Regions from separate parts of the Homo sapiens genome. Here regions 2, 3, 4 and 5 are each linked to region 1. Evidence: fine-mapped expression QTL. A gene starts in region 1. Each other region holds a variant in brackets. All regions are shown on one strand. Distances are from middle to middle.

Region 1 (5,000 bases):
CCTTTCCTTGCTATCTTCTTCTGACACTGCCTAATGTTTCATTGAAAAGTAGAGGTCATTAAACAGAACTCTCTCATCTTCCCACCACCATTCCTCCTAACCCACCTGCATCTGTGGCCACTTTTCTTCCTCTTGTAATAGATGAAAAGGTTCCTGCTCCTATCAAAAGCCATCTTACCAGCTGTACTCTGCATCCTAGCCTCTCTTGTCTTCTCTAGACTTCCCTACTGTAACTATCTTCTCTTGCATCATCAGCTCCCCCTCTCTACTGAATCATCCCGTTAGTGTACAAACATGCTCTAGTATATTACTATCAAAACACTCCCTTACTTCATGTTCCATTTTCAGATACTGTCCCATTTCTTATCTCTGCAGCAGCATTTGAGTGAGCTCTTTATAGTCACTCTCTCTACTTTTCACATTCTCTCCTCAGCCCATTCCAGCTGTTTCTGTTCTCACTACTGCAGAGACTTGCTCTTGTTATGATCACGAGTGACTGCTATGTTTGTCAAATCTACTGGTTCCTTGTCGCTCTTTTTTTTTTTATTGAGATGGAGTCCCAGGCTGGAGTGCAATGGTGCGATCTCGGCTCACTGCAGGCTCCACCTCCCAGGTTCAAATGATTCTCCTGCCTCAGCCTCCCGAGTAGCTGGGATTTCAGGTGCCCGCCACTACACCTGGCTATTTTTTGTATTTTTAGTAGAGACAGGGTTTTACCACGTTGGCCAGGCTGGTCTTGAACTCCTGACCTCGTGATCCACCCGCCTTGGCCTCCAAAGTGCTGGAATTACAGGCGTGAGCCACTGCGCCTGGCCCCTTGTCTCTATCTTGATGTCTCAGCAGCATTCATTACTATTGATTCATGTCTTTACGCTCTCCTATTTTCTTTTTTTATTTTGGTTTTGTCACAGAATATCACTCTGTCGCCCAGGCTGGAGTGCAGTGGTGCGATGTCGGCTCACTGCAACCTCCGCCTCCCAGGTTCAAGCGATTCTCCTGTCTCACCCTCCCAAGTAGCTGGTATTACAGGCCCAGCTAATTTTTGTATTTTTAGTAGAGACAGCGTTTCGCCATGTTGGCCAGGCTGGTCTTGAACTTCTGATCTCAGGTGATCTGCCCACCTTGGCCTCCCCATGTGCTGGGATTACAGCCGTGACTCACTGCGCCTGGCCTCTCCTTTTTTCTTCTTTGGCCATTTCCCAATCTCCTTTGCTGATTCCTTCTCAACCTTGAAATGCTAGAGTGCCCTACGGCTCTGTCCCTGGCCATATTCAAGCCCATGACATCAAATACCATCCTTGTAATGGTGACTTATTTCTCTAATTCTGGCCTAGAACATTCCCCAAAAGTAACAGCCTAAACTTCACATGGCCCCCCAAAAAAACTCCCCCTCCCCAAAACCACCATCCCCAGTCTTCCTATATCAAGCAAAAAAATTCAGTTATATGGATTCTTCCTAATCTACTCATTCCTACTGACCTTCTCCATCTCATATCCATCCAACTCCTACCACCCTGACTCCCACCCTTATGCAAATCATTAAATCTTGCCTATATTACCATAATAGCTGTAATTTGTCTTTCCACTTCCCTAAAATCTTGTTTTCACACAGCAGACACAGTGATCTTTCCAAAATGTAAATCAGTCCCTGGTTCTCAAGCTAGGAAGATAGTGCCCACAGGGCAAATGTCTGGAAACACTTTTGGCTATCACAACTGGGTGGATGCTACTGACATCTTTTGGGTAGAAGTCAGAGTTGCTGATTAACATAAGACACAGGAAAGTCCCTCACAAAGAATTATCTGGCCACAACCTATCAATACTGCTGAGTTTAAGAAACCAAGCCTTGTATCATTCTTCTACAGCAAAAAGGGTGTGGAGAATGGAGGGCCACTGAAAGAACCAAACCTGAGCCCCTTTATGGGGGCCACGGCACAGCCCATTTAATGGCTTGGAAAATTCTCGGGGGGAAAGGTGGCTCTCCTCTACTTTAAACTTTTCAATGGCTTCTAACTTTATGTAGATTAAAATACAAATTCCTCATCCTGCTTTACAAAGCCCACTATGCTGTAGCCAGCCACTCTGTATTTCATCAGTCTCTGAATTGGCCAAACTTATTCCTTTTGCAGCTGTTTCTTTTGCTTGGAATGCTTTTGTACATGATCTTTGTGTGGCTTAAATGTCAGCCCCTCAGACACCTCGTTACCCAGTCATATTACATCACCGCTTATTTTCTGTAGCACCCTCACCACTATTTCATCTTTCAGCCCATCTCCAGTGCTGCAACGTGGACTTCCTGAAAGCAGAGATCTTTTTTTTTTTTTTCTCACTGCTGTCTAGTTCGCCCTCAAACAGTGCCTGACTTATAGAAGTGCTCAGTAAATAACAGTGATTAAATGAATGAAAAACTGTGAAGTCTGACGATTATCATATACCTAAGTGAAGACAGAATGGACAAATGAATATGCCACTATACGGTTCTGGCAAGAGGTATAGGTTAACAAAGAAAAATAACTTCAGGATTAAAACTATATTAAAAGCCACAGGTCTGGATAAGATCATCTAGGATGAAAAAATAGTCTTTTTAAATCAATACACCATTTATTAACCTGAGCAGCAGAGAAGGGGCTCGGAAAAGCACCTGCTCTGAGACCCTTACTGGAGCCCCAAAACTTCTCTCCTTAAGGAGCCCTCGGGGAGAGAAAAAAGCCTTCCAAACAGGCTTATGCCTTACACCCCCCCCCCCCCATTCTCCGTCTGTCTCCGAGCACAGGGGCCCCACGCACCTCTGGGGGATCCATCCTGGGGTGCGGCGACCCTCTTGGTAAGCAGCGAGCGCCTGGGTCCGCCGGCCTGGGTCTGCAGCCCGTATGAGAACTGCGGCGGGTCGTTCCAGCCGCGTTCCTTGTTGCCTGCGGAGGCGAGGGATGTGTGAAGCGAGCCCGGAACTCCACTGTTAGCTTATACTGGGGCTGGGGGAGACAGAGGGTCCATACTAAGCGCCGCAACCGCCCCCAGCCTAGGCCGGGGCGACAACCTAGTGCCCTAGCCCGCCGGCTGCGCTCACCCGGCTTCACGTACAGCTCCGCCATCTCCACTTCCGCTTGGCCAGCGGGGCAGCGCGTCATTTCCGGGGCGGCCCCTCACGCGGGCCAGTTGAGACACGTCCAGGGCCAGGCGGGTTGCCGGAATCCGTGGAGGATGGATGCTGGTTCACAACCGTCGGGAGCCGCTGTGGGGACCCTGCGGCAACTCCCTAAGACTCGAAGGCTCCATCTAATGAACCATCAGGGCCCTGGTCACAAGGCACCAAAGGAGGTTGCTGTCCAGGAGCCAGTGCTCTAGGAGGCCTCATCCTCTCAGGAGCAAATTCAAACAAAGAAGCTCCTGCCCCACATACACCCCGCTGTGATCTAGCCAGGTTGACTTCTACAGCCTCCTCTTGCATTGCCCTGCACAATCTCCACATTCACGTCCGGTAGCCTCACTAGTACTCATCTTCCTTCAGTTCTCAGTTCAGATGTCAGTTCTTCAGGAGGCCTTCTGGAATGTCTCAGGCCAGGTTAAGTGTCTCACTTGAGCTCCCACGACCCTACAACCCTCTGAGATTTCGTAGGTGTATTACATCACATCTTCTGCCTTATTTGACTCTTGTTCGTTTCCCTGTCGGACAGTCTTAGAAGGTGGGACCTTGACTATTTTATTACATTCCCAGTGCCCAGCTTAGTGCCTGGCACAGGGAACTCCTTAGAAAATATGTTTGTTGAATGAAGTCAGATCTCCATCACACCCATGCTGTCATGTGACTACAGAGAGCCACCAACATCAAGCACAGACACAAAGACACTCATCTCACACAGGGTGTTAGCCCCCAGCCCTGTCCCAGGCCCAATATACTCACATCCAGTGAGGTCACTGAGGGATTTTTATTTGCACTGATTTTGCTATAAAGTGTTACTGAGGTAGAGCCAACTGTCCAGGGTTGGACAGGGGCAAGGAACACAAGGACCCAAGGAAAGGGGAGCCAGGGTCCTACGTTGTGGTGCAGTGCCTCCCAGTCATCCGTATAAACAATAAATTGGGCAATAAATAGACGGTGGACAAGGATCGGAGGGACAGGCAGAGAAGGCTTCAAGGAGTGACAGGCTATAGGCCTTGAGGAATAAAACGGTACAGAGTTAGGCATGGACCCAGAGCCTACTTCCCCAGCCTTCCCAGATAAGTTTAGGGCATATGGAGCAGAGAGGGTTTCAGCCGGAAGGCATCAAGAAAAGAGAAGACACCCCGCTTTCGAGGGGTTGCCCCTGCACCGCCAACCCCTCCTTTGAGCAGGGGGAGGGGCAGGGGACCTCCTGGGGAATCCATGGAGCTGGTCCGCTTGAGCCGCAGGCGGGCACGGGCCTGGGCACCCCAGGCCTTGCCTCGAGCTGCAGAGGCCACAAGACACTTCTGGTACTGAACCTAGGGAGAAGGGGAATGTGAGGATCCAGCTACTTTCTGCCTCTAGACTCCCTGAAAGCTTCTGCAGGACAGGGAACTGGCCAAAGCTTCTGTCTGATAACAAGGTTGGTAGTCAGCCACATGTGGAGTTTCTAGAGCATTCCCAGGTAGCTCAATAACAAAATCATAAAACATGTATCAGACACTTAAGGAGGGCAGGCTGGACACTGCTAAGTGCTTTGTATAATTCAGTTATTTATGAGGGGTTATTATCCCTGTTTTGCAAAAGAGGAAATTGAGATTCAGAGAGTATATGACTTGCCCAAGGTCACACAGCCAGAGAAAGGCAGAAATGGCATTCAAACCTAGTTCTCTCTGATTGCAGAGCCTAAACTCTTAATTACATGTACCACTATGTTGCCTCTTTTCCATCTCTCACTGGTGGGGACTAGTCCCTGGCAAAGCAGATTCCCTAGTCAAGGGTAAAGGTGTACAACTCAAACTCCAGCCCCAATGCAACTGCTCCCAGTCATCTCATCTGAACAGCTCAAAGGTGTCCT
Region 2 (6,533 bases), 61 kb before region 1:
TATTTTTAGTTATACTTTTTCAACCTGATTTTCTATTTGAGATCCAGTTGGGAATGCTGTTTAAAAATCATTCTAGTAGGGTGCTGTGTGATGATGTAAGCAAGGGAATTACAGAACAAGGTTTAAGTTTTATAGACAAAACCAAGTAAGGAAATATGAAATCTAGTCTAGATCCTTCTGTATATCATGTTTTTTTCCCATTGGCCATTATTTTTCCATTGTACAATGCACTGATTATTTTTAGACACAAAAATGATTGATAGGATTAAGCTCAATCCAATAAAAAACTAAATATTTGGCAAATACATGTCCACCTCATTCCTTCACTGCCAATAAAAAAATAAAGGCCATGTTTAAGCTGTCACTACATCATGGCTTCTAATACAGATTTTTTCTAGTTTTGTTAATGGAGGGAAAGTGAGAGGCAAAGGAATAGGATAGAAACCAAACCAAAAAGATGAAATGGCGACTTTACCTGTGGTTCTTTCTTTGAGACGGAGTTTTAGTCTTGTTGCCCAGGCTGGAGTGCATTGGCACGATCTCAGCTCGCTGCAACTTCTGCCTCCTGGGTTCAAGCGATTCTCTTGCTTCAGCCTTCTGAGTAGCTGGGATTACAAGCATGCGCCACCACACCGGGCTAGCTAATTTTACATTTTTAGAAGAGACGGGGTTTCTCCATGTTGGTCAGGCTGGTCTAGAACTCCCAACCTCAGGTGATCCACCCGTCTTGGCCTCCCAAAGTGCTGGGATTACAGGTGTGAGCCACCGCACCCGGCCACCTTTATTTTTAAATAGTACTTTATGATATCATTCACTGATACCAGTGAATAGATGTCTTTGTATCTGACACTGTAAGCTGTTTGAAGGAGATAGAACCCTTTTATTTTCTGGTATCTTATAATACTACTTACTACCTGTTGAAAATTTTGTTGCTAAAAGAATACTTGTCTTAATCTCTACCCAGAAACTGTAGATGTTGCTTTAGTTTCTAGGACTAATTAGGCGACATTATCTGTTTTTCACCAATCTGTTTTATTCTTGATGTTATAGCTTGTGTTAGTCCTTTGATGTGTCTTTAGGCAATTCCACTAACTCCATGGCTATTTTGAGATGAACCACTTTTTATGCATCATTTTTGCCATCTTCCATTTTTAATGCTACATACGTTCTGGGCTTATAGTTTGTCTATTCATAAATTACTCTTAGTAATCTTGTGTTCCACGCTTCTTGCATATTATTTGTTAACAAGATAGACAGGGCCATTCCTATCTGTTACTGTCCTCAAAATTCTACTCTTATTTTGGATTATACTATGTATAAAGATTTTAAATCTGTGAATGTCCAGTGGGGTCATAACATAATTACTAACCAGTCTGGTTAGTGTTGAACTCTTACCTAGTTTTCCTGAATCTTAAATACAAATTGCTTAGTAGCTATACAAGGGTGTTTTGAAACTAATGGATGTTTAAAGGACCATGGACCATTCAGTCTTTGTAGAACTTCTAAATGTACTCGAGTGATGTCATTGAATTTATTACATGACTGAATATTTCTTTGCTATTGCTGTGGATTTGTACATTGCTATTTGTGACCATTTACCTTCCTTTTCTTGTTGATTGTCATTAGGCACTTTAAACAAATACTGTAAATCAAAACAGGGACTCCTATATGGTCTTAGGAAAGTAATAATAAAATTAGCTCACAAATCTAATTGCTTTTGCTCTGAAAGAATAAAGTCTTTTTCCATCATTTTTACTCAGAAAGAAATATAAATTGAGGAAGGCTGAGGCTGGAGAATTACTTTAGGCCAGGAGTTCAAGACCAGGCTGAGCAACATAGCAAGATCCCATCTCTTAAAATTATATATATATAAATTGAATATAGACAGTGTACTTTGCAATTTAAGGAATAACTAAGCCTCTGAAAGTGATTGCAGTGATATTGAAATTGTGGTCATCTTACCTTATTAAAGACAGTATGTAGGTGAAAAACTTAGACTTTTTTAGTAATGACACATGTTGCATATGTTTGAGCTACCTGCAGTTTTGAGATCTCTATTCTAGCAAAAAAGTAGATGAATCTCTAATTTTTTTTTCTTCAGTAGTTTTGTCACCCCTTTGAAATTCAGAACATTTCATGTCTCTAAATGATCTTTTTTCCTTTGGACTTGAGAATCATTTTTAATACAATGGATGATTTTATTTTAAAAATTCCCAAATTACCTATGTTATTCATATATGTTGACTGCAATTCAAAATAATAGATAACTTTTTTACCCAGCTTTTCTCAAACAGCTTTATTGTTTAATTTACATACCATAAAGTTCCCTTGTTTTAAATGTACAATGCAATGAGTTTTAGTAAATTTACTGAGTTGTGTAACCATCATCACTATCTAGTTTTAGACCATCTCCATCTGCCCAAAAAGATCTCTTATGCCTGTTTGCAATTGATCCTCATTTTCACTGTTATAACCTCAGGCAGCCACTACTGTCCCTGTCTCTATAGATTTGCCTTGTCTCTGCAGATTTGATATGAGTGGAATTACACAATGTGTGGTCTTTTGTGTCTAGCTTCTTTCACTTAGTATAATGTTTTTGAGGTTTACTCATGTTGTAGCATGAATCAGTAGTTTGTTCCTTTTTGTTGCTGAATAGTCCTACTTTTTTTTTTTTTTTTTTGAGATGGAGTCTCGCTCTCTCAGGCTGGAGTGCAGTGGCGCAATCTCGGCTCACTGCAAGCTCCGCCTCCCGGGTTCACGCCATTCTCCTGCCTCAGCCTCCTGAGTAGCTGGGACTACAGGCACCCGCCACCATGCCTGGCTGATTTTTTGTATTTTTAGTAGAGACGGGGTTTCACCGTGTTAGCCAGGATGGTCTCGATCTCCTGACCTTGTGATCCGCCTGCCTCTGCCTCCCAAAGTGCTAGGATTACAGGCGTGAGCCACTGTGCCTGGCCTAGTCCTACTTCTAAACAAGATTAAGCCTTAGATTTGCCTCAGAGTAGGTATTGTACGTCAAAAAATTTATGTCCTTCATTTCATGTCCA[G/T]ATGTTAGGATTATTAATATTGATAATTATTTTTCAGCTGATTTGTTATGAAGGAAGGAACTTAAGTGTAATTTAAAACCTTAAAATAATATACATTGCCATTGTTTGTTAACATATACTGTCAGCATGAGTAACCCTAAATGGGAAGTCTGATTTTCTCCTAGGATCATTTATTGTTTCTCTCATAGACAGAATTTACTTGAAGTGTTCATTTAAATGCAAGTTGTCCTTTGCATAGTAAGTTTAACAGTGTTCCAGTACAGATGTGTTAAAGGTATATTTAATGGAGAATTTTAGAAAGACATGTCTTGAAAAAACTGATTTCACATTATATTTCAATATAAGAAGAAAAATATTTTGACTGAAAAACACTATCCCCTACTTTGATCTGTAAGTTTTGGTCTTTTGCATTAACTCTGCATTGCTTGCAGAGTTGATATTGCTAAAAGAATGATTGTTCTAAATGGGCAGTTAACATTTCTGGTATTTTCAACGCTATTTTGATACTGCTTTAGATTTGGTGTTCTTTAAAAAGTCCAATCTAATCAGCAGAATTTTGAGATTCTTGCCTCTTGGTTTTCCTTTTCCCCGCCCCTGACTTAATTTCCAAAATCCTCCTATCCTAAAGTAGATTTTTAAAACTTCACAGTTTTTGAATTAGCAACATCCTAGTTTGTGCTGCTTGAAATAGATGAGTATAGGCTTTAACCTGCCTAACACTGGTGTGACTCTGAACATTCATTCTATAACATTAGTTATAAGGGTTTTGGGAGGGAGGTCCGTGTGTGTGGGAGGGGAGGCTGGTTTTCTTTTTTTTTTTTCTTTTCTTTTTTTTTTTTTTTTTTTTTAGCATGGCACTCTTTCAAACATTTTTCATGTGCTTAGGTACATCCAAGCAGAAGTCCAGTTCCCTCCAGGTAGCAGATCAGGACCTACTGCCATCTTTTCACCCATACCAGCCTTTGGAGTGCATAGTAGAGGAGACTGAAGGCAAGCTGAATGAACTGGGACAAAGAATTAGTGCTATTGAAAAAGCACAGCTTAAGTCACTGGAGTTAATTCAAGGTGAACCTCTGAACAAAGATAAGATAGAAGAACTTAAAAAGAACAGAGAAGAGCAAGTCCAGAAGAAGAAGAAAATATTGAAAGAACTGCAGAAAGTGGAAAGGCAGTTGCAGATGAAAACACAGCAGCAATTTACCAAAGAATACTTGGAAACCAAAGGTCAGAAAGACACAGTGTCTCTACACCAACAGTGCTCTCATAGAGGAGTCTTCCCAGAAGGGGAAGGAGATGGTAGTCTCCCAGAGGATCACTTTTCAGAGTTACCTCAGGTTGACACAATCTTATTTAAAGATAATGATGTTGATGATGAGCAACAGTCTCCACCATCGGCAGAACAGATTGATTTTGTCCCAGTCCAGCCTTTATCATCTCCACAGTGTAACTTTTCCAGTGACTTAGGTTCTAATGGGACAAATTCTCTTGAACTTCAGAAAGTATCAGGTAATCAGCAGATTGTAGGACAGCCTCAGATTGCTATTACTGGACATGATCAGGGGCTGTTAGTTCAAGAACCAGATGGACTAATGGTTGCAACTCCAGCTCAGACGCTTACCGACACTCTTGATGACCTGATAGCAGGTGGGTTAAGAAATATATCTGTAATAATTTCTCTTTAATCTGTGTGCTGAACTTCTTTATATACCCCTCCAAAAACGTAGACTTTGTACGTTTCCATTTTAGAACTTTGTAAAATTACCCATTTCTCGAAGTATTTTGGAAGTGAATTAACTATGCTCAATAGCACTAACACACAAAAGTGTGTTTTCCCCTCTTCTTTTTTGTCATATTGCAAAGGCAAAGAAATAAAGTTGCCACAATCCTTTGTTTTAAACCGTTGGTATCAAAACCACTGTGTGCTGTGACTTGGGTAGGAGATCTCAAAGTAGAATTTCTTTGTAGGCTTTTAGAAGTATTCGTATAAGATTATACTTAAAATTTTCCTGCTGTTGATTTTCATGTCTGGAAATTTAAAATCACACAGCTTTTTTAATTTGTAATTTTATTAGATCAACTTACGTATTTCCAATTAAATGGGATGTTCAGATAAAACTAAGTATTCCATATTATAATATTTGTGGTTAGAAGATAAGGTGCATTAAAATGATTGTCACTTGATGATTTGAAGATTGGGATTTTTGCATTAACTTTCTTAATGAAAGCACACAACCACACCACACCACACACACACACACACACACACACACACACACACACACACACAGAAAAAAAGGCCTGATAACCTTGAAGTATATGTTTCTGTTTATTGTTGTGTGGAAAATTACAACTAGATATGAAATGAGGTGCACAAGTTTACTTTCCCTTTCATTGTCCTTGCAGCAGTGGGAAAACAGTGCAATTAATCATTTACCTTCCTAAAGATGGCTGGTGAATGTATCACCTCCATGAGAGCCCAATTCAGAAATGCAGCCAGAATGGCTGTTGACAGTGGATGAAGACCAAGAACTAAGATGTAGCTGGAGTGATATTCAAAGGCAGGCCAGTCCTCTGTCTCTTGATTGCAACATTTTTTTCCTTACTGTTGTCTGTTGCCTCTTGTCATATTCTCCTCCCCTTCTCCCATCCCAATTATGCTATCTCAGTTTCCTTTCTTCTTTTGTGAGCCTTTAGTCTTCCTGATCTTTACTGAATCTTTTTAAATGTGGAATAAGATTACTGAAATCAGGAATTTTATTGGGCATGTGTTTGACTTCCAATGGTTATAGAATTGTGATATTGCCTTTGAGGCTCCTCTGATATGTAATAGGTATCATTGTGCAGAGGAGGAATGTCTTAGTTTTCTTAAAGAAAATTAAAATTCTGGGAAATGTTTTAAGGAGTTAGGCTCTTTGTTCTTTAATTTGGGTTTTTATATCTTCAGTTGGTAGACACAAATTAACTTTGTATTATTAGCATTGAAAGTTGTTATAAATTGTGAATAAATTCTTGTAGTTCATTTGGAATTCTAATTTTAATCTGGGTAAAAACAGATTTTAGAATGTGAAGTATGATTACGAATAATAATGATGAAACTGATGAACTGGGAATAACATTTTTAACATGTAGTGTTCTGTAACTAGCATTATAATGTTCCTAATTAAGTGCACAGTTTGCAGTTATGAAATCTGTGTTACTGATTAGTTCAGTTATGTTAGAACTTTTTTTTTTTTAAAGAATGTAGAAATAGCTCTAAAAGGAACTTGTAAGTGTTAAGGAACATCAAGTTTTATTTCACTGAAGTATTTGTTAAATTAGTCTTTTACAAAGTTTGCATGAAACTTAGAAAATTGGCTTAGAAATTATCTTTTTATTAATATAAACAAAATTTAATTTGTGTTAGACATTAATACCTACCACATTGTACAATATTCTTTTATTAATAAGTTTTAAATTTTAAATCAGCCAACAGGTACAAAAATTATC
Region 3 (6,533 bases), 22 kb before region 1:
CAGAAGTTCGAGACCAGCCTGGCCAACATGGTAAAACCCTGTCTCTACTAAAATACAAAACATTAGCTGGGTGTGGTGGTGCACTCCTGTAGTCCCAGCTACTCAGGAGGCCGAGGCAGGGGAATCACTTGAACACAGGAGGTGGAGGTTGCAGTGAGCTGAGATCGCGCCACTGCACTCCAGCCTGGTGACAGAGCGAGACTCTGTCTTAAAAAAAAAAAAAAAAAAGAAGTACTGATTCATGCTATAACATGGATGAACTTTGAAAACATTTTACTAAATGAAAGAAGCCAGTCACAAAAGACCAGATATTTATTTTATGATTCCATTTATGTGAAACATCCAGATTAGCAAATCCATAGAGACAGAAAGTAGATTAGTGGTTACCTAGGATGAAGGGGTGATTGGAGGGTGGGTGATAGCTTAGGGGTGCAGAATTTCTTTTTCTTTTTTTTCTTGAGACAGGGCCTCACTCTGTTGCCCAGGCTGGAGTGTAGTGGCGTGATCATGGCTCACTGCAGCCTCAACCTCCTGGGCTTCAAGCAATTATTCTACCTTGGCATCCCAAAGAGATAGGATTGCGGGTGTGAGCCACCATGCCCAGCTTCAGAGTTTCTTTTTAGGATAACAGAAATGTTCTAAAATTGATGTGGTCATGAATGCACAATTCTGTGAATATACAAAAAGCTACTGAATAGTATAACTTTAAATGAGTAAATTGTATGGTTTGTGAATTAAATCTCAGTAAAGCTATTAAAAAGTACATTTATGTGGCATCTACATTTAGGTCCCCAAAATGCACATCATGATCTTTAAAAGCTATCATGATTAGCTGGGCATGGTGGCTCACGCCTGTGCTGGGAGGCTGAGTTGGGTGGATCACTTGAAGTCAGGAGTTCAAGACCAGCCTGGCCAACATGGGGAAACCCCCGTCTCTACCAAACATACCGAATTTAGCCAGGCATGGTGGTGGGTGCCTGTAATCCCAGCTACTCAGTAGGCTGAGGCAGGTGAATCGCTTGAACCTGGGAGGCAGAGGTTTCAGTGAGCTGAGATTGTGCCACTATACTCAGCCTGGGTAATAGAGCAAGACTCTGTCTCCAAAAAAAAAAAAAGCTATCATGATCTTTACAAAAGACTGACAGATTTCACTGTAAAAATATTGACAGTGGCCAGGTGTGGTGGCTCACACCTGTAATTTGAGTACTTTGGAAGGCCAAGTCAGGAGGATCACTTGAACCCAGGAGTTCGAGACCACCCTAGGCAGCATAGTGGGACCCTGTCTTGATAAAAAATAAATTTCAAAGTTAGCTCAGTGTGGGACCGGGCACGGTGGCTCACGCCTGTAATCCCAGCACTTTGGGAGGCCGAGGCGGGCAGATCACGAGGTCAGGAGATCGAGACCATCCTGGTTAACACGGTGAAACCCCATCTCTACTAAAAATATAAAAAAATTAGCCAGGCGTGGTCGCAGGCACCTGTGGTCGCAGCTACTTGGGAGGCTGAGGCAGGAGAATGGCGTGAACCCGGGAGGCGGAGCTTGCAGTGAGCCGAGATCGCGCCACTGGACTCCAGCCTCGGCAACAGAGCGAGACACCCTCTCAAGAAAAATAAATAAATAAAAATAAATTAGCTCAGTGTGGTGGTACACGCTTGTAGTCCCAGCTACTCAGCGGGGCTAGGCAGGAGGATTGCTTGAGCCCAGAGGTCGAGGCTGCAGTGAGCCATGATCACACCACTGCTGCACTCTAGCCTGAGTGAGAGAGCAAGACCCTGTCTCAAAAAAAAAAAAAAAAAAAAAAAACAAGAAGTTATTATAGAAATGATTCATTTCAATAAAAAAAGAAAGAAATGATTCATTTCCTACTTACAGACTTTTTAAAGCCACATTCAGTATTCTCACTACCTCTAGGTTTTGCTAACATCTACTTTGGTTAGCACTAGAAAATTTAATTTTTTTTGTCAGGAAAGCACAGTAATAAATTGCCTACTGTTGCCTACCACAATAATGAAAGTCTGAAATAAGTAGGAAATGCATTAAGTTACCCACATGTCCAGAGTAGGCAAATCTATAGAGACAGAAAGATTAGTGATTGCTTAGAAATGGAAATATGAGGCTGGGTGCCGTGGCTCACACCTGTAACCCCAGCACTTTGGGAGGCCGAGGCGGGTGGATCATGAGGTCAGGAGATCGAGACCATCCTGGCCAACATGGGGAAACCCCGTTTCTACTAAAAATACAAAAAATTAGCCGGGCGTGATGGCAGATGCCTGTAGTCCCAGCTACTTGGGAGGCTGAGGCAGAAGAATGGCATGAACCCGGGAGGCGGAGCTTGCAGTGAGCTGAGATCGTGCCACTGCACTCCAGCCTGGGTGACAGAGCAAGACTCCGTCTCAAAAAAAAAAAAAAAGAAATGGAAATATGAGGGTGAGGACCCAGTGAATGACAGGTAATGAGTATGGAGTTTCTTTTAAGGGAGACAAAAATGTTCTAACATTGATTGTGGTGATGGTTGCACAATCCTGTGAGTATACTAAAATCCAATGAATTATATACTTTAAATGGGTGAATTATATGGTATGTGAATTACATCTCGAAGTCATTTTTTTTAAATGATGGGGAAATCAAAGTCTGAAAATAAGACCTGCTTAAAAGAAATTTTGACAGTCGATGTTGATATTAACTACTTTTTCCTGAAATAATAAACCATAATCCTTTTCCAGACCTTCATCCTCTTTTCCTAATACATTTTCCAGAGAAAGCAATGGAATTTGAGAAGATGGCTAAGTTCAGATTTATACAAACTAGATAGAAACTTTGATAATAGTTTGCAACTGTTGATATTTTCTATCAGATAGAATACTGAAATTATCCTCAGTAGTAGGCTTTTCCTCTTTGTGAGGAAGGAAACATTGGTAGATTTTGTTACTTATCTTCTATAGAAAATGACTATAGTTATACAGATGAAAAGCTGTACTTTGACTACAAAAGGGAATGCAGGAGTTATTGTTGGGTGCTACTTAGTTACAGCATACTCCCATTTCATATCCCCTCCAGTTAAAAGCTTTGAGATTCATCTAGAACATTACTCCAGGTGACTGACACTCTTAAACATTGAGCCCATTTTCCTGTATCTAGTGCTGTTTGGCGATATTCTTCTGGACTGTAAGGAAAAA[A/G]TGGATTTGGCCATACAGTATCACATAGATGGATTGTTTTTGCTGTGGTCTATGAAAATGAGCCACATGCTATCTTTTATTTATTTGTTTGGTTATTTTTACAGCTTATCTCACTTTGGTGGAAGTCTTCTTGGGCTTTCAATTTTAAAGTTTTAGCTAATTGGATGTCTTGGACCTGTTTTATTTCAGGGTTACCATCCATTGACCCATCAGGCAGCTCCCCATCTTCCTCTTCTGCTCCTCTGGCAAGTTTTTCCGGCATACCAGGAACAAGGGTTTTCCTGCAAGGGCCAGCTCCTGTTGGGACTCCTAGTTTCAACAGACAACATTTTTCTCCCCATCCTTGGACAAGCGCCTCAAACTCATGTAGGAATCCTGGAGGAACTCTTCCCAAAGAGTTTTGAATAAGTTATTAAATCATTTATTTCAGTTACAACACCATGTTGTAACTTTAGTAAACTAAGTGGTATACAGATGCCCAAGGTTTGTTCTGTGGTCATGTGAAAAAATTGTCAGTCATTTTTAGCATAGAAAACTTGAGAATTATTCTTTCAAGCCAAAAATGTTTTACAGTAGAACTTGGATCAAGAAAAGAGGTACTAGGCTGGGTGCAGTGGCTGACACCTGTAATCCCAGCACTTTGGGAGGCCTAGGCAAGAGGATCGCTTGAGCCCAGCAGTTGGAGACCAGCCTGGGCAACAGCAAGACCCTGTCTCTATTAAAAAAAAAAAAAAAAAAAAAAGTACCGCAAGTAGTTTTACAAAAGGACCCTTTGGAAGCAGTGTTGTAAAATTATTTCTTAAATCTGGAAAGAAGTTGAATTTTTGTATATGGTCAGTTTGGTGTGATTTCTCATGTATTTTTACATTTTATGAAACTATTGCCTTTTATAAGTTAAAATATTCCTTTGTTCTATTGATTGATTGATTGATTGATTGAGATAGAGTGTCTCGCTCTGTTGCCCTGGCTGGAGTGCAGTGGCACGATCTTGGTTCACTCCACCTTCTGCCTCCCAGGCTCAAGCGATTCTCCTGCCTCAGCCTTCCGAGCAGCTGGGATTACAGGTGCCTGCCACCACGCCTGGCTAATTTTTATATGTTTAGTAGAGACAGGGTTTCACCATGTTGGCCAGGCTGGTCTCAAACTCCTAACCTTGGGTGGTCCACCTGCCTCAGCCTCCCAAAGTGCTGGGATTACAGGCGTGAGCCACCTGCCTGACCCCTTTGTTCTATTTATTTCAATGTTTAGAACAGATGAAGTATGTGGAATTGAACGGAATTGGATTTTTATTTTATTTTAATGAGCATCATGAGGTAGTCAGTGAGTATTGGCTTTTTTGACAAGGAAAATTACCCAAATCACCCAAGAGTTCCATTAAGAAACAAAGCTGTGAATCAAAATCGTACAATGCTTTGCTAACATTTGACCTTATTTCCTTATAGAAACAAAAAGGGCTGTAGAAAGGGAAAAAAGAAAAGACTAACAAGTATAGAGGGTCACCAGATGTTTTCTAGAAAATATGCTAGGTACTGTGCAAATATTGCCACATTTTAGTTAATTTTCAAATGTGGCTGGGCGTGGTGGCTCACGTCTGTAATCCCAGCACTTTGGGAGGCTGAGACGGGCAGATCACCTGAGGTTGGGAGTTTGAGACCAGCCTGACCAACATGGAGAAACCCGTCTCTACTAAAAATACAAAATTACCAGGTGAGGTGGTGCATGCCTGTAATCCTAGCTACCCGGGAGGCTGAGGCAGGAGAATCGCTTGAACCCAGAAGGCAAAGGTTGCAGTGAGCCAAGATCACGCCATTGTACTCCAGCCTGGGCAACAAGAGCGGAATTCCGTCTCAAAAAAAAAAAAAAAAGTGACAGTAATGTTTTGAGCAGATTATTTAGAGCTAGAATAAAAACAAATGTGGCCTGCTTCCTTTCTAGCATTGTTTAGTTCAATTGGGAAAACATTTTTTAGACTGTTGTATACTTATTATAGGCAGAAATCGTGTAGGATAATGTCTATAGAAATTATGTTTTATTTGAATGTTCTTTTAAAATGAAAATTTTCTTTACAGAACTTATGTTGTGGAATAGATCTTTCCAACAAGGTTTCTCATATTCTTATAGTTTTTTATATGTAATAAAACAATAGAGAAATATTTTGCCACCAGGTGACTCTCCTATTCCATCTGTTTCTTCGGGATCATCTTCACCTCTTTCAGCCACTTCTGCCCCACCAACGTTGGGCCAACCAAAAGGAGTCAGTGCCAGTCAAGATCGAAAGATACCTCCCCCAATTGGAACAGAGAGACTGGCCCGAATTCGGCAAGGAGGGTCTGTTGCACAAGCCCCGGCGGGGACCAGTTTTGTCGCTCCCGTTGGACACAGTGGAATCTGGTCATTTGGTGTCAATGCTGTGTCAGGTACAATTGCCTTGCTCTCTCTCTGGAGGGATATCTTAAGTAAGCTGTAGGTTTGCCATTAAAACTTAGTTCCTTAGAAAAAACAAACAAAAAAAACTTAGTTCCTATGTTTAACACTCAATTAGGGAAGGGTGTTTATATCTTTGAGGAGTTCAGTCCAATTTCAGAGTCTGGAATATTGGTTGAGGTAATACATAGAGTTAATCAGAAACAAAAGATTCAAAGTGTGTGTCCTTTCTCTCTTAAATAATCATTTGAGTTCTTTCAGAGAGTACTTAATCTTTTAAAAGACAGGGTAAAGTGGAGTATTCAGAGGACTTTACCTAGTTTTTCAGGAACTGGTTTTTTTTGGCTAGCAAGACTGTGATAAATACGCTTTGAGCTCTTCAGAGGAAAGATTTCAGTAACATTTGGTCATGTTTGGTAATAACAATGGTAATGTTTTGTTGTTTTATCCAAATAAATTTAAAACTTTGTTTTCAATTATTCTTTCCAGAAGGCTTATCAGGTTGGTCGCAATCTGTGATGGGGAACCATCCAATGCATCAACAATTATCAGACCCAAGCACATTCTCCCAACATCAGCCAATGGAGAGAGATGATTCTGGAATGGTAGCCCCCTCTAACATTTTTCATCAGCCTATGGCAAGTGGTTTTGTGGATTTTTCTAAAGTGAGTTGACAAACATCACTGTAACTTGATTGACACTTTGTCAGCCAATGTAGTCACATTAAGGAATACCTTGTATTGAAATAATGCTCCCTTTTGTTTCTGTGGCTTTGCTAGATCTTTTGCTTAATTTCAGGAGTGCACAGAGTTGTCCACAGTAGTTTGTCCTGAAGATGTCCCCATCCCCCGAAAACACCTGAGGGATTTGGGTTTTGCCACTTTGTGCTCTGCTACTACAGCTTTGAGGGAGGCCTCTACCCCTCTTAAAAG
Region 4 (6,533 bases), 91 kb after region 1:
ATTCTTTGTAGACTATATATGTGTCTATCTGCAGGTGCTCACAGTTCTGTGCAATGTTGCAGAAAAGGGTCCTGCTTACTGCCAGCGGCTGTGGCCAGGGCCCCTGCTTCCCGCCTTGCTGCACACACTAGCCTTTTCTGACACTGAAGTAGTAGGCCAGAGTTTGGAGCTGCTGCATCTGCTGTTCCTGTATCAGCCAGAGGTATAGGTTTCTGGCCCACATCCTCAGTCACCCCTGTTCTGAAGCCACACAGTGGCTCCCTTCCCATCCAGTCCTAACTATAGTTGTTTCTCTGGGCCTGGCTAACCTATATAGGTTCCATGTCAGAAACTTCATCCTCTTGTTGGGGAATGCACCCTCTGGAGTAGGCTGACCCATGAGGCTGTGGGAATTGAGTCTTAGGACACAGAGACCAGGTGTGTTGAATTTTCTTCCCTGCCCCTAGGCTGTTCAGGTCTTCCTGCAGCAGTCAGGGCTGCAAGCCCTGGAAAGGCATCAGGAAGAGGCCCAGCTCCAGGATCGTGTGTATGCTCTCCAGCAGACAGCTCTTCAAGGGTGATCTTGTTTCTCAATGTCACTCATTCCCCTCTCTCTTAACATCAAGCTTGTTTGTCCAGTAGAGCCTTTGGAGATTTAGGACCATAATGAGGTCTCATGTTCTCTGCTCCCACACCTAAGCCAAGACCTTTGGGTCCCAGCTCCTCCCCTTCCACTCAGCACTATCCAGGCAGGAGGACCAAAAGGGACTCAGTGTGGTCTACTTACTCTGGGGCCCTAGAATCCCTGCCCCCCCGCCACCCTTCATGTTTGCTTCAGCAGCTGGTAGCTTTTGATGAGACAGAATAAAGTTTTATTTTTATATTAAGCTACTTTGCCTCAGTGGTTGCACAGTAAGGGGTAGAGGGTAGATGAGGACAAGAACACCCTGAGAAAGTATTTTACAGCACAAGCTTTATGAGGAATAGGAGAACACATTTTTTTCACATTATACTAAGTCCAGCAGAGCCCAGGCTCTGGGGCTGTTGCTCTTAATCCTCAGTGGAGGCTTCAGGCTTTACCACTTAGAACGTTCTCCAGGGCTCTGGTTACCTGATCAGCACTGAAGTTGTTCAAAGGGACATTCGTCTCTTGGCCAAATGCTGAAGAGAGAGAGGGAGGTGTCTTTAACTATTCTGCACCCTGGAGGCTACCAAAGTAAAATAAAAGATCTTTGTCTTTATCTTAGTCTTGTTAAGACAGGAAGAGTATTAAAGAGATATGATCAAAATACATTTGGTATGCCTAGAATTAATACAATAGGTCTCAAACACATCTAGGAAGCCCAAGTCCAAATAGAATTTTGGCTGATTCTGGATGGCCGCAATGGGTTGTTTCAGGGAAGCTTTCGGGGGCACTGTAGGCATTTATTATTAACTACGGTGAGCAATGTATTGCATGGGTCCAGCCTCAGCTGGGAGCCCATTCTCTCTCTTTTTTTTTTTTTTTTTTTGAGACGGAGTCTCGCTCTGTCACCCAGGCTGGAGTGTGGTGGCACGATCTCCACTCACTGCAACCTCCACCTCCTGGGTTCAAGCAATTCTCCTGCCTCAGCCTCCTGAGTAGCTGGGATTACAGGTGCCCGCCACCACACCCGGCTAATTTTTGTATGTTTAGTAGAGACGGGGTTTTACCATGTTGGCCAGGCTGGTCTTGAACTCCTGACCTCAGGTGATCCACCTGCTTCAGCCTCCCAAAGTGCTGGGATTACAGGCGTGAACCACCGCACCCAGCTGGGTACCCATTCTCTAGGCTCCCATAGGCTATCTAACATAATACCCAGCACAATACACTAAAGTTACTCGTGTCTATCTCCTCCTGTAGTCTACTGGCTTTTGGAAGGAGAAGCTTTTTTCCTTCTCCAATTATTAGTGCATGTCTAATGTCTACTGTGTCTCACAGATATCTACTCTGAGAACCAATCTGCTTAAGGTGGTCACTCTCCTCCACCTCCTCCCGTCATTCCCAGGGCACCATATAGTTAAAAGCTGTGATTAAAATCCTGTTATTCAGTATGTATAAACATTTATTGCATACCTACAATGTGTTAGGCAACATGATAGGAAAATTTCATTTTGCAATACATTGCCATGCCAGTCTTAGAGGGGTAAGTGCATTCTAGGAAGGGGAATAAATGTAAAGGCTCAATCCTGTTAAACTCTAGCTGCATCTAAAGTTGCAGCTAGAGTTTAACAATAGTGCAAAACAAAGTTTTGATTCCGTTTTCTAATCTCTACAGTGAGAAAAGAAGAACACGCTTCCTCCTAACTAATGAAGATTAAATGAGTTAGGCAGGGAAGCACTCAGCACAGGGCCCAGCTCTATGTGCAAAATTACTGAGATTCTCACACACTACCTGGACTGACACTGGCTACACGTTATTTGGAGAAACTATATTGACTAACTTCTCTCCTGTCTGAAGCCCATTCTTAACTACAAAAACGTCAGCTCCTGGTCCCTACGCAGGATTCGGTCAGCCTGCATACTTATGTTGCCCGGAATACAACGCATCATATAACCCTGCGAATATAAATTTCTTCATGGAAACAAGATCAACAGCAAGGCTAAAGTCCGAGTTCTAGTTTCTCCACGGGTTTCTGCACGACCTTGGGCGGTCCCTTCTCTTCTCAAACCCTTGTTCCCCTACCGGAGCCCCAGACCCCTGGCGTCCCGCACTCACCGTAGCGGGCCCAGAGCTTGGGCTGCACATCGGAGCATTCGCGGATTAGGATGGGTAGGTCGGGATTCGCCTTCTTCAGCTCCACGTAGCGTTTCTCAATGAAGTCCCTGCGGGGCCGGAGAGAGCGCCGCGCGTGCTGTGGGCGGGGGCTTCCCTCAACTTCAGGGAGGTCGAGGTCGTGACCCTGGCGTCCCGAAGCCCGCCCGCCTCACCACGCCGCGCCTCACCTGACGCCCTGGCTGCCGGGCGAGCGCTGACATAAGTGGATGCGAATCTCACGCAGGCCCAGCTTTGCCCCGACTCCTCGACTTGCTGCGGCCGCCGCCATCCTTGTTAATATCGAAGTCGCCAATTCCAGGTCTTCAGGCCAAGTGCTCCGGTCTGACCAACCGCGGACCCTAAAGCCTAGCCCATAGGCTGCATGAGGCAGGGGCGGGGTAAAGCTTGGCCAATGATATAAAAGTATTGTAGGACCGCTGCGAGGTCAATTTCTTTGCGCTCGGGGTTGGTCGGAGGGAAAAACAGGAAGCGGAAAGGCTGCGAACGCAAAGCAGTGTGGGTTGATTCTGAGGTGCACTGTGGGAAAGAGCTTGTCGCTGCGGTGTTGCTGTTGGAGACTCGATTGTTGGTGACAGCGAAAGAACGATAACAAAATGCCGGAGCGAGATAGTAAGGCTCAGGCCATCCGTTATTTCTTCCCCATGGCACTTGGGGCACTTGGCGCATTATTGTAGCTTCTGAGCTTAAGCCG[G/GGTGT]GTGTGTGTGTGTGTGTGTGTGTGTGTGTGTGTGTGTGTATGTATGTATGTGTGACGCTTGAGCCCGGAGAAGCCACAGGGTCCTAAGTGAGGCCGACAGCTCCAAACTCCGTCCCCAGTCCTCACTCCTACTCCAAGTGATGATGGGCGGCTTTTGTGCGTGGATCGCTTTCCCCCAGTCCTGTCCCCATACTTAATCCTGGGTTGCGCGTATTTATCTTTTACGTAGTATTTTAGACGTGATCTTCCGGAAGTCTTCTCTGATCCTCCAGCGCAGGATTAGGGTCCTCTGCTTTGTGCTCCCACAGCTTCTTGTAGTTTCCTATTTCAGCACTTATTACATTGTGTTGACACTGTCGCTGTTCTAACTTTTGTTCTGTATTGTTCACTACTATATCTCAAATTTTTGCATAGGATCTGACACGTAAGAGACTGATTAAATTAACGTCAATTTTTTTTGTCAGGTGAGCCGTTCTCCAACCCTTTGGCCCCCGATGGCCACGATGTGGATGATCCTCACTCCTTCCACCAGTGAGTATTTTGTGCTAGGACCATGGAAATGAGTTGGGCAATGAATAGAAAAGTGGTGGTGATGGTGAAAGAATTCTGAATGTCTTGTCATCAAGGATGGTAAAAAATTATACCCGCTGGCCCTTTATCTCTGTGAGCCTTAACTGGATCAGGCCAAGTGCATAAGGGTATTAGAAGGGAAATTCCTGCAGGAAAGGTGTTAAGTTTTTTTTTTTTTTTATACGTGTTGTGTAATTACACATTATATAGGAATTACTTCTTCCAATAGCAAATTAAAACATAGGAAATAAGGGTAAAATCATCTTTTTATTTTTTTTGAGACTGAGTTTCGCTCTTGTTGCTCAGGCTGGAATGCAGTGGTGCGATCTCGGCTCACCACAACCTCCGCCTCCCGGGTTCAAGCAATTCTCCTGCCTCAGCCTTCCGAGTAGCTGGGATTACAGGCATGTTCCACTACGCCCGGCTAATTTTGTATTTTTAGTAGAGATGGGGTTTCTCCATGTTGATCAGGCTGGTCTTGAAATCCCGACTTCAGGTGATCCACCCGCCTCTGCCTCCCAAAGTGGTGGGAGTACAGGCGTGAGCCACCGTGCCTGGCCCCCGATAAAATCATCTTTGATAACATCCCCAATTCCAGTCCATTTCTTTTTTTTTTTCTTTTCTTTTCTTTTCTTTCTTTTTTTTTTTTTTTGAGACGGAGTCTCACTGTTACCCAGGCTGGAGTGCAGTGATGCAATCTTGGCTCACTGCAACCTCTGCCTCCTGAGTTCAAGCGGTTCTCCTGCCTCAGCCTCCCAAGTAGCTGGGACTACAGGCATGTGCCACCATGCACGACTGATTTTTTTTTTTGTATTTTTAGTAGAGACAGGGTTTCACTGTGTTCGTCAGGCTGGTCTTGAACTCCTGGCCTGAAGTGATCCACCCGCCTCAGCCTCCTAAAGTGCTGGCATTACAGGCGTGAGCCACCGTGCCCAGCCTCAGTCCTTTTCTTAGAAGTAACCACAGTTACCTTTTTTGGCATATCTTTTCCTCCCGTTGCCCAGGCTGGAGTTCAATGGCATTATTTCTGCTCACAGCAACCTTTGCCTCCTGGGCTCAAGCAATTCTTCTGCCTCAGTTTCCCCAGTAGCTGGGATTACAGGCATGCCCCACCATGCTTGGCTAATTTTTGTATTAGTAGAGACAGGGTTTCGCTATGTTGGCCAGGCTGGTCTTGAACTCCTGACCTCAAATGATCTGCCCGTCTCGGCGGCCCAAAGTGCTGGGATTACAGGCGTGAGCCACTGCGCCTGGCCCTCCTACTCTTTTTTAAATGCATTTATACACATACATGCATATCTGAGGAAAACACAACATTGCTTTGTGATTTAAAATATTTGAGTTAAATGATATTATGCTGTATATATCATTTTTGCAACTTGCTTCTTTTTAAACCCTGCTCAGTGTTTCTGAGATTATCTTTCAGAGCAGTGACAAGCATTCCCTCCTTGGCTAAACTTTAGTCAGGTTCCCCAAAGAGTCCCATTTTTCAGCAGGACTCATCCGTGGCCTGCTGAGCACAGTTTTAACAAAGAAATCAACCACCGCTCCACCCCCATACCTAACCAAGTTGCTTTTAGTAATTTTCTATAAATTCTCACTTGTCCCTGTTGTATTCGGAATTAAGTTCAGTCTCTCTACTCTATTACAATGGTCTTGACTCTTGTTACAGTAGTCTTCAATAAAGTCTTCCTTGGGGAGAAGAGGAACTTGATTAGATATCAAGTTGGATTGGATATCAAGAGTGGGAAAACTTTCTGTGAACTGACTTAGGATTCCTTTTTAAAACTGAGGTCAGCAGGCCAAGGAAGAGCCCTAGTCAGAAGAGAGCTTTAAAGGAGTCTGACTTTAATTTGATCAAGAGAGGAGTCTTTGTTAGTGTACCAATTAAAATAATCTCTTGTACCATTAGTGCTGTCTTTCCCTCTTTGGGAAACACCATCATAGTTTAGTCAGTCTCCAGCTAATAAACGCTTAGTCTGTTTCAGACTGATTCTTTTCTTTTTTTTATTTTTTTGAGACAGAGTCTTGCTCTTTTTGCCCAGGCTGGAGTGTAATACCTAGATCTCGGCTCACTGCAAACTCCGCCTCCCAGGTTCAAGCGATTTTCCTGCCTCAGCCTCCTGAGTAGCTAGGATTACAGGCGCCCACCACAACGCCCAGCTAATTTTTTTGTATTTTTAGTAGAGATGGGATATCACCATGTTGGCCATGCTGGTCTTGAACTCCTGACCTCGGGTGATCCGCCTGCGTCAGCCTCCCAAAGTGCGGCGATTATAGGTGTGAGCCACTGCACCCGGCCAGACTGATTATTTTCAAGGCTATAACTGAATTAAATTTACAGGCCTTCTTATATACATATGTCAGTAATGGACCAGGCTAAATATAAATAAATGGAGTTGCTGGCTCATAGGATATATATACTTAAATTTTAACAAATACTGCAAAATTGCCCTTCAAATTGGTTATACTGGTTTACATTCTCATCAGCATTA
Region 5 (6,533 bases), 82 kb after region 1:
GTTGCTAGACAGGTAGATACAGAAAGGCAATTTGGGCAGCTGTAGCTGTCTGAGCAGACACTGGGCAGAATATAGCTTTTGGCTGGGAACTTTTTTCATCTTCCCCACCTGGAGCACATGTGGGTTTTGTTGTTGTTGTTATTGTTGTTGTTTTAGATGGAGTTTCACTCTTGTTGCCCAGGCTGGAGTGCAATGATGCAATCTTGGCTCATCGCAACCTCCACCTCCTGGGTTCAAGCGAGTCTCCTGCCTCAGTCTCCTGAGTAGCTGGGATTACAAGCACGTGCCACCACACCTGGTTAATTTTGCATTTTTAGTAGAGACGGGGTTTCACCATGTTGGTCATGCTGGTCTCGAACTCCTGACCTCAGGTGATCCACCTGCCTCCATCTCCCAAAGTGCTGGGATTATAGGCATGAGCCACCTTGCTGGGCCAAGTGTGGGTCTTAGAAGCTAGCCTGGGTTAGGTGCAGTGGCTCATGCCAGTAATTCTAGCACTTTGGGAGGCCAAGCTGAAAGGATCATTTAAGGCTGAGTTCCAGGCTGTGATAAGCCATGATTGCACTACTGCACTGCAGCGTGGGCAACCGAGCAAGACCCTGGCTCAAAAAAAAAAATAAATAAATAAAATAAAAATAAAAAAGTTTTTCTTGGGGAAATAAGAAAATAAATTTTTTTTAATTAAAAAATTAAAAAAAGAAGCCAGACAGTTGCATGAGGAAGGGCTCAAGATCCAGGCCCTATCCCTGGCCAGAGCATGGTGCACAGCAGGTACTCAGTAAATGGCTCTCCAGGGGCTGGATGGATACTGGGAGAGAAGATATGGAGGATGGAATGATGGCCTGTAGATATTTTAACATGCTGTTTTGTGGAAGAGATTGCAGACTTCATTGATTAACTCCAAGGGGTAGAATTAAGTTCAAGGGAAAGAAATTGGTTTTAAGAATAACCTTTTTCCTAGATTTGTACTTAATTGAACCTTTGCCTAAGTTATATGGCTTTTTAAAAATTAGAGGTTTCCTGTAAAAATTCTTAGGTGCCACCGGGACCCTAATCTTCTGGAGCTGCCAAGGGGGTCTGGGAGGAGACAACATCAAATAATTACACTATAACTTAATGATAGCTGTGAAAAGGGTTGTGAAGAAGCTGGGTCATTGGTACAATGGTTCTGAGTAGGTGACACTGGACTTGACATGTTGAGAATGGTGTTGAGGGAAGGATGCTGGTAGAAAGAAAAGGGAAGGATGCAGGCAGAGAAAACAGCTTGTGCGAGAGCCTCCCCCAAGAGTGGGAGTAGGGTGGAGGAGAAAAAGAACAGGGCTTGTTGACAAAGAGAAGGTCCCAGAAGAGGTGAGTCCAGATTGGAGAGGTATGCAGGGGTTAGACCATGTAGGGCTAAGTCGGCCACAATTCCAATTTTGAATGTGAGGAACACGGTTTTTTATTCACTAGTGTTTCCTCAGTGCCTAGTAGACTAGTGGCACTCCACATTTGGTGAAAGATTTTATCCTAAAAATTATGGGAATTCAGTTTTATGCAGAGAAGTGAAATAATGATATCTTTCTCATTTTCATCACATATAAAATGAGAATAATGGTCATTGTGGTGAACATTCTGTAAAGCAAAAATAAAATTCTAAGGCCGCCCCCCACAACCATCTGAATGGACTTCCTCCTCAGCCAGGGCTCTTTCAAAATTAAACCCGAGTGACCGTTTCAGGCCATGATGGGAAGTAGGGGTTGAACGTGCCTCATTATACCTCTCTACCGTTAACATCAACACAGACTTTAAGTTTGATAAGAAACATTTTACAACCCATTCTCTCTGAAGCCTAGGATTTGAAGGTTTCCTCTGCAAATAAGAACTTGGGTCTCCACAATCCTTTATCTTAACCCAGACATTCCTTTCTATTGATTTCAGGTCTTTAGAGAAACTCAACCAATTGTCAACCAGAAAAATTTAAAATCTACCTATAAGCTGGAAGCCCCCCACCGCCCCACTTCGAGTTGTCCCGCCTTTCTGTTGTCCCACAAACCAATGTCTTTCTCTCTTTCCCCCTCCCCTCTCTTCCCTTCCTCCTTTCCTCTTTTCTTTTCTTTCTTTCTTTTCTCCCTTTCTTTCTTTCTTTCTTTCTTCCTTCCTTTCTTTCTTTTCTTTCTCTTAGGAATAACGCTCAAAATCCTAAGGGAAATTGAACACTCGAACAAAGGATTATTAGCAAAGCAATTTTACTTCTGCTCAGAGGGGTGTCTGCTTGGCCAGTCGCCATGAGAGCACACCTGAACAAAGGGGCACGAGAGCCTTTATTCCTGACGCAAGTCCTGCCCCTGTACCCTTTCCCCATTGGCCGGGGTCGGGTCATACAATCTGAACTAATCCCGGTTGGCTAAACATTTGATTTTTTTAGGTAATGTGGGCACGTAAAAGAAAGTGGAGAGGAAAGGGGAAGGGGTGCCTGTAATGAACTAGAAAGTTAGTCCTCTTTCCAAATAATGAAAGGAATGTGAGCTGGTACTGATAACGTCTGGTACTGATAACGTCTTGTACTGTGGCGTGCCTCGGCATCTAACGAAGGCAAAAAGGAGAAAAAGGAAAACAAAAGTGTGTGTGGGGGGGAGTACTATGAATTAAAGAATAAAAGATTGATCTAATTATTTGAAGAGAAACCTCATCATATCCCAGATTTCTTTCTTTCTTTCTTTCTTTTTTTTTTTTTTGAGACGGAGTTTCGCTCTTGTACCCCAGGCAATGGGGCGCGATCTCGGCCCACTGCAATCTCCGCCTCCC[G/A]GGTTCAAACGATTCTCCTGCCTCAGGCTCCCGAGTAGCTGGGATTACAGGCACCCACCACTACTCCCGGCTAATTTTTGTATTTTTAGTAAAGATGGGGTTTCACCATGTTGGCCAGGCTGGTCTCAAATTCCTGACCTCAGCTGATCCACCCGCCCAGGCCTCCCAAAGTGCTGGGATTACAGGCATGAGCCACCAGGCCCGGCCCAACCAGTGTATTTCTTGAATGAACTGAAGTCTCATATCTCCCTAAAATATGTAAAACCAAGCTGTACCGGACCACCTTGGGCACATGTTCTCAGGACCTCCTGAGGGCTGTGTCAAGGGCCATGGTCACTCATATTTGGCTCAGAATAAGTCTCTTCAAATATTTTACAGAGTTGGACTCTTTTCGTTGACAATTCAATGACGCTTCAAGCGTTTTTGGCAGCTCTCATCAGTGGGATCCGCATTAATAGTGAAACGGCATCATGGCGCTTCCCGCAGTTCGGGATTGTTTTGAACTTTCATCTAGAGCGTATTGTGGGTGGGGAAGTTGTGTTTGCTGAGTAGATTGTGACACTGCTGGCTTGGGTCACTCGAGGTCAGGGATGAGAGACTTTTTTTCCTAGAATTGGTAAGACAGGAAATCAATCAGAGGCAGAGCGACGCCTCTGGCTCTGGTCTAGTGGTGCAGCGTCTCTAGCCCTCGCCCCGCCCACCGTCCCCGCGAGGCGTCCACTCGCCGAGCCCCGCCCTCACCCAGCACCCACCCCGCTCCTCGCGCCCTCCCCGCCTGTTCCCGCCCTGTGCTGAGGCTGCGCAGTCGGTGCCATCTTCTACGCCCCTGGGAGCGTTGTGGCTGCTGTTTCCTTCGGCTTTCCTCCTCCTGCTCCACCATGTGGAGCCGACGGCAGGGCCGCCTCAGGCCCACGGTCTGCGGGGTGGAGGAGCTACGGCGCCGCCGGCGGGAGCGGGAGGCAGGTGTGGGCGGCCGAGGGAGCGCGGGGGTATATGGCGGTCGGGGATAAGTTGAGACCCCAGGCTCGGAGCCGCGGGTTCTGGGTTGTGGTCGTCCTTCCCACGCTCAGCCGGCTCCTCTGCCCCCAGCACTGCGGAAGGCGCGGAGGGAGCAGCAGCTGGTCAGCAAGAGGCTGCTGAGAAACGACGCCCCAGAGGAAGCTGGAGAGGGATGTGTGGCTGCGATCCTCGGGGAAACCGAGGTGAGGGGGCAAGGTAGGGTGCGCTGGAGTCCACGCCCGCTGGCGCCAGACTCCCGGGAGTACTCGAGGTCTGCCCCAAACCTGAACGCAATCCACTCTACACTTCCACGCATCCAGTGGGTCAAGCCAGAAACAGGGGAATCATCCTGCACAACTCTTTGACCCACAACCCCATATCGATCCATCATCAAGTCCTAGTTGTTTACCTCCTGAAGAGCTTTGGAGTCTTTACATGCCTCACCATCGAAGCTGCCACCACCACCTCCTCTCTGGATACTACTGCAGTCTCCTAAAAGGTCACCCTGCATCTATGCTTGTCACCGTCACTACGTCCTTTAAAAACACGTGGAGACCAAAATCTTTCCTGTGCCTTGCAAAGCATAGCATGGTCTAGCCTCTTCCTAACTCAAATTTTATCAGTTTTCTCATCCTACCCACCGTCCTCTTTTTAGTTCCTGCAACGATATATCGGATTTGTGTCTCAAGCCCTTGGCATTCGCTACGTCTAACGTTCGTTTCTTTTGGTATTCTGTCTTGAGAGCCTATTTTTTTTCTTTTCTTTTCTTTTTTTTTTTTTGAGACTCTCGCTCTGTCGCCAGGCTGGAGTGCAGTGGCATGATCTCGGCTCACTGCAACATCCGCCTCCCGGGTTCAAGCGATTCTCCTGCCTCAGCCTCCCGAGTAGCAGGGATTACAGGCGCGCGCCACCACTAATTTTTGTATTTTAAGTAGAGGCGGGGTTTCATCATGTTTGTCAGGCTGGTCTGGAACACCTGGCCTCATGATCCACCCGCCTTGGCCTCCCAAAGTGCTGGGATTACAGGCGTGAGCCACTGTGCCCGGCCACCTACTTGTTTCTTGTAGAATATTAATCATTATCTAATGGTTTGTCTATTGTTATTTCTCCAACTAGACTTTAATTGCAGGAAAACCTAGATCCTGTGTTGTCATTGAAAACCCGGTTGCCTGCACATTATCTGGCATATAGTTAAGTACTCAGTGTTTATTGAATGAGTGAATGAAAGGATTTATTCAGTAAGCATTGAGTATCCCCTGTATTTGTATTATGTTTACGTACATAGTTTACCGTACATACCATGTTGACATATATATTATCAACTTATTCCTAGGTCATACTATTCCATTGTATGCTTACTTTATGCCAGGACACTGTGCTGGTCACTGAGGTACACAAAGATGAAAGGATAGAGTCCTTTTCTTTGAGGTGCTCACAGCCCGGTGAAGAAGACAGATGTCACAAGGGAAGGAAACATGAGGAACAAGAGAAACTCCTAAGTCTCTCAAAAAGAGCTAACTTCCCAGAGGAAATGAGGAGCAGAAACCTGAAGAGAGTGGGAAGCTGGAGAGGGTATCCAGGCAGAAGAAATAGCATGTGCAAAAGCTCGGAAATGTAAAAAAAAGAAAAAGAAAAAGCTCATGTTAGGCTGGTTGTTGTTAGAGTGTAGGTTGCATGGGGAGAATGGCTAGAGGAGTAGGTTTTGCCAGGCTGAGAGGTTTAAATATCCTTGAAAGAACCCTGTATGAAGGCAGGATAGATATTGTTATTCTCATTTTCAGGTGAGGAAACTTAGGTTCAGGTCCCATATGGAGTAAGTGGCAGGTATGGTATTAGAACTCAGTTCTGATTCTCTGTCCACTCCACTGCAAGGTAGATGCTTATTAGTTGCATTAGTGTGAATGACAAGTTCTGAAGGTGTGATATTGGAAGGCTCACAGGTGAAGTGGGCAGAGAGAGACTTAGGACTTGCTTTCTGTGAACCGTGTGTTCTCCTTTCCCTGCCCTGAACTCCAGGTGCAGCAGTTCCTGCGGCAAGCCCAGCGGGGGACAGAGGAAAAGGAGAGAGAGGGGGCTCTGGTCAGCCTTCGTCGAGGCTTGCAGCACCCTGAAACACAGCAAACCTTCATCCGGTCAGTGTGGATGGTGTGGTGGAGGGAGGAGTTGGGGCTCTGAGGGATGGACCACAAGCTAAGCAGGGCTCTGGTACTCACTCACATAGGCTGGAGGGCAGCATGCGGACCCTGGTCGGGCTCCTGACCAGCAACCAGGCCCTGCTGCAGCTTGAGGCGGCTCGGTGCCTGCATGAGCTCTCTCACTCCGAGCAGTCCACTGTTGCTGAGGCCTGCCTGCCAGCCACTTCTTACCTCCTCACCTACCTCTCCAGTCACAGCTCAGACTTCATAGTAAGCCCTGTCCCTTCCTATCTTGTTCTTGGTTTAGATTTTAAAATTGTGCTTTTGGGACCAGTTTGAGCTGGCAGGTAGGAGGAAGAAAACATGTTTGCCCTTATGCCTACAGCCATGGCTACACCCATCATCTCCCCACCCTCTTGTGAGCCGCAAGGATAGCTGCTCCAGCGTCCCCATCACCTCCCCTCCCCATCTCCCCACACGCAGCCTGGCATGAAACAGGCCAAGCCCAGTGCTTTTGTTGCCTGTTCTCAGGAGCTGTGTCTGTATACACTGGGTAACCTGATCGTGGAGAGTGAGGCTGTGAGAAGGCAGCTCCTGCCACAGGGCATTGTT

Direction of the effects. Alleles are on the strand shown, and positions count from the first base shown. SD is a standard deviation of normalised expression in the study named. Not every link is listed here.
As copies of GGTGT replace G in region 4, the expression in monocytes after R848 of the gene that starts at base 3,113 in region 1 goes up (moderate effect, 0.43 SD a copy in Quach 2016).

The links.
Region 2: its variant is fine-mapped to the expression of SRA1 in whole blood (INTERVAL, PIP 0.90).
Region 3: its variant is fine-mapped to the expression of SRA1 in whole blood (TOPMed, PIP above 0.99).
Region 4: its variant is fine-mapped to the expression of SRA1 in monocytes after R848 (Quach 2016, PIP 0.95).
Region 5: its variant is fine-mapped to the expression of SRA1 in whole blood (TOPMed, PIP above 0.99).

Annotation. Positions count from the first base shown.
Region 1 is chr5:140,554,361-140,559,360 of GRCh38, forward strand. It overlaps SRA1 (steroid receptor RNA activator 1), which reads right to left and starts at 3,113. Exons shown (of 5, transcript NM_001035235.4): 1 at 3,068-3,113; 2 at 2,787-2,912. The coding sequence starts at 3,092. It overlaps APBB3 (amyloid beta precursor protein binding family B member 3), which reads right to left. Exons shown (of 13, transcript NM_133173.3): 13 at 3,908-4,461. The coding sequence ends at 4,225. RefSeq lists a silencer at 1,673-1,822 and enhancers at 2,346-3,167, 3,033-3,392, 3,483-3,542.
Region 2 is chr5:140,492,588-140,499,120 of GRCh38, forward strand. It overlaps ANKHD1-EIF4EBP3 (ANKHD1-EIF4EBP3 readthrough), which reads left to right. Exons shown (of 36, transcript NM_020690.6): 15 at 3,933-4,691. ANKHD1 (ankyrin repeat and KH domain containing 1) reads left to right here. Exons shown (of 34, transcript NM_017747.3): 15 at 3,933-4,691. Among named protein-coding and RNA genes, the nearest start is that of EIF4EBP3, 52 kb to the right of the region's middle. The variant G/T (reference allele first, on the strand shown) is at 3,048.
Region 3 is chr5:140,531,996-140,538,528 of GRCh38, forward strand. ANKHD1-EIF4EBP3 (ANKHD1-EIF4EBP3 readthrough) reads left to right here. Exons shown (of 36, transcript NM_020690.6): 30 at 3,367-3,543; 31 at 5,394-5,594; 32 at 6,091-6,266. It overlaps ANKHD1 (ankyrin repeat and KH domain containing 1), which reads left to right. Exons shown (of 34, transcript NM_017747.3): 30 at 3,367-3,543; 31 at 5,394-5,594; 32 at 6,091-6,266. Among named protein-coding and RNA genes, the nearest start is that of EIF4EBP3, 12 kb to the right of the region's middle. RefSeq lists an enhancer at 1,565-1,624. The variant A/G (reference allele first, on the strand shown) is at 3,178.
Region 4 is chr5:140,644,539-140,651,071 of GRCh38, forward strand. TMCO6 (transmembrane and coiled-coil domains 6) reads left to right here. Exons shown (of 12, transcript NM_018502.5): 11 at 35-202; 12 at 447-866. The coding sequence ends at 560. NDUFA2 (NADH:ubiquinone oxidoreductase subunit A2) reads right to left here and starts at 3,092. Exons shown (of 3, transcript NM_002488.5): 1 at 2,945-3,092; 2 at 2,718-2,824; 3 at 747-1,140. The coding sequence starts at 3,045. The coding sequence ends at 1,049. It overlaps IK (IK cytokine), which reads left to right and starts at 3,291. Exons shown (of 20, transcript NM_006083.4): 1 at 3,291-3,386; 2 at 3,933-3,999. The coding sequence starts at 3,371. MIR3655 (microRNA 3655) reads left to right here and starts at 3,306; the gene lies at 3,306-3,388. RefSeq lists enhancers at 2,670-3,089, 2,830-3,365. The variant G/GGTGT (reference allele first, on the strand shown) is at 3,469.
Region 5 is chr5:140,635,863-140,642,395 of GRCh38, forward strand. TMCO6 (transmembrane and coiled-coil domains 6) reads left to right here and starts at 3,589. Exons shown (of 12, transcript NM_018502.5): 1 at 3,589-3,750; 2 at 3,877-3,989; 3 at 5,803-5,918; 4 at 6,008-6,191; 5 at 6,453-6,533. The coding sequence starts at 3,666. RefSeq lists a silencer at 3,401-3,650. The variant G/A (reference allele first, on the strand shown) is at 2,788.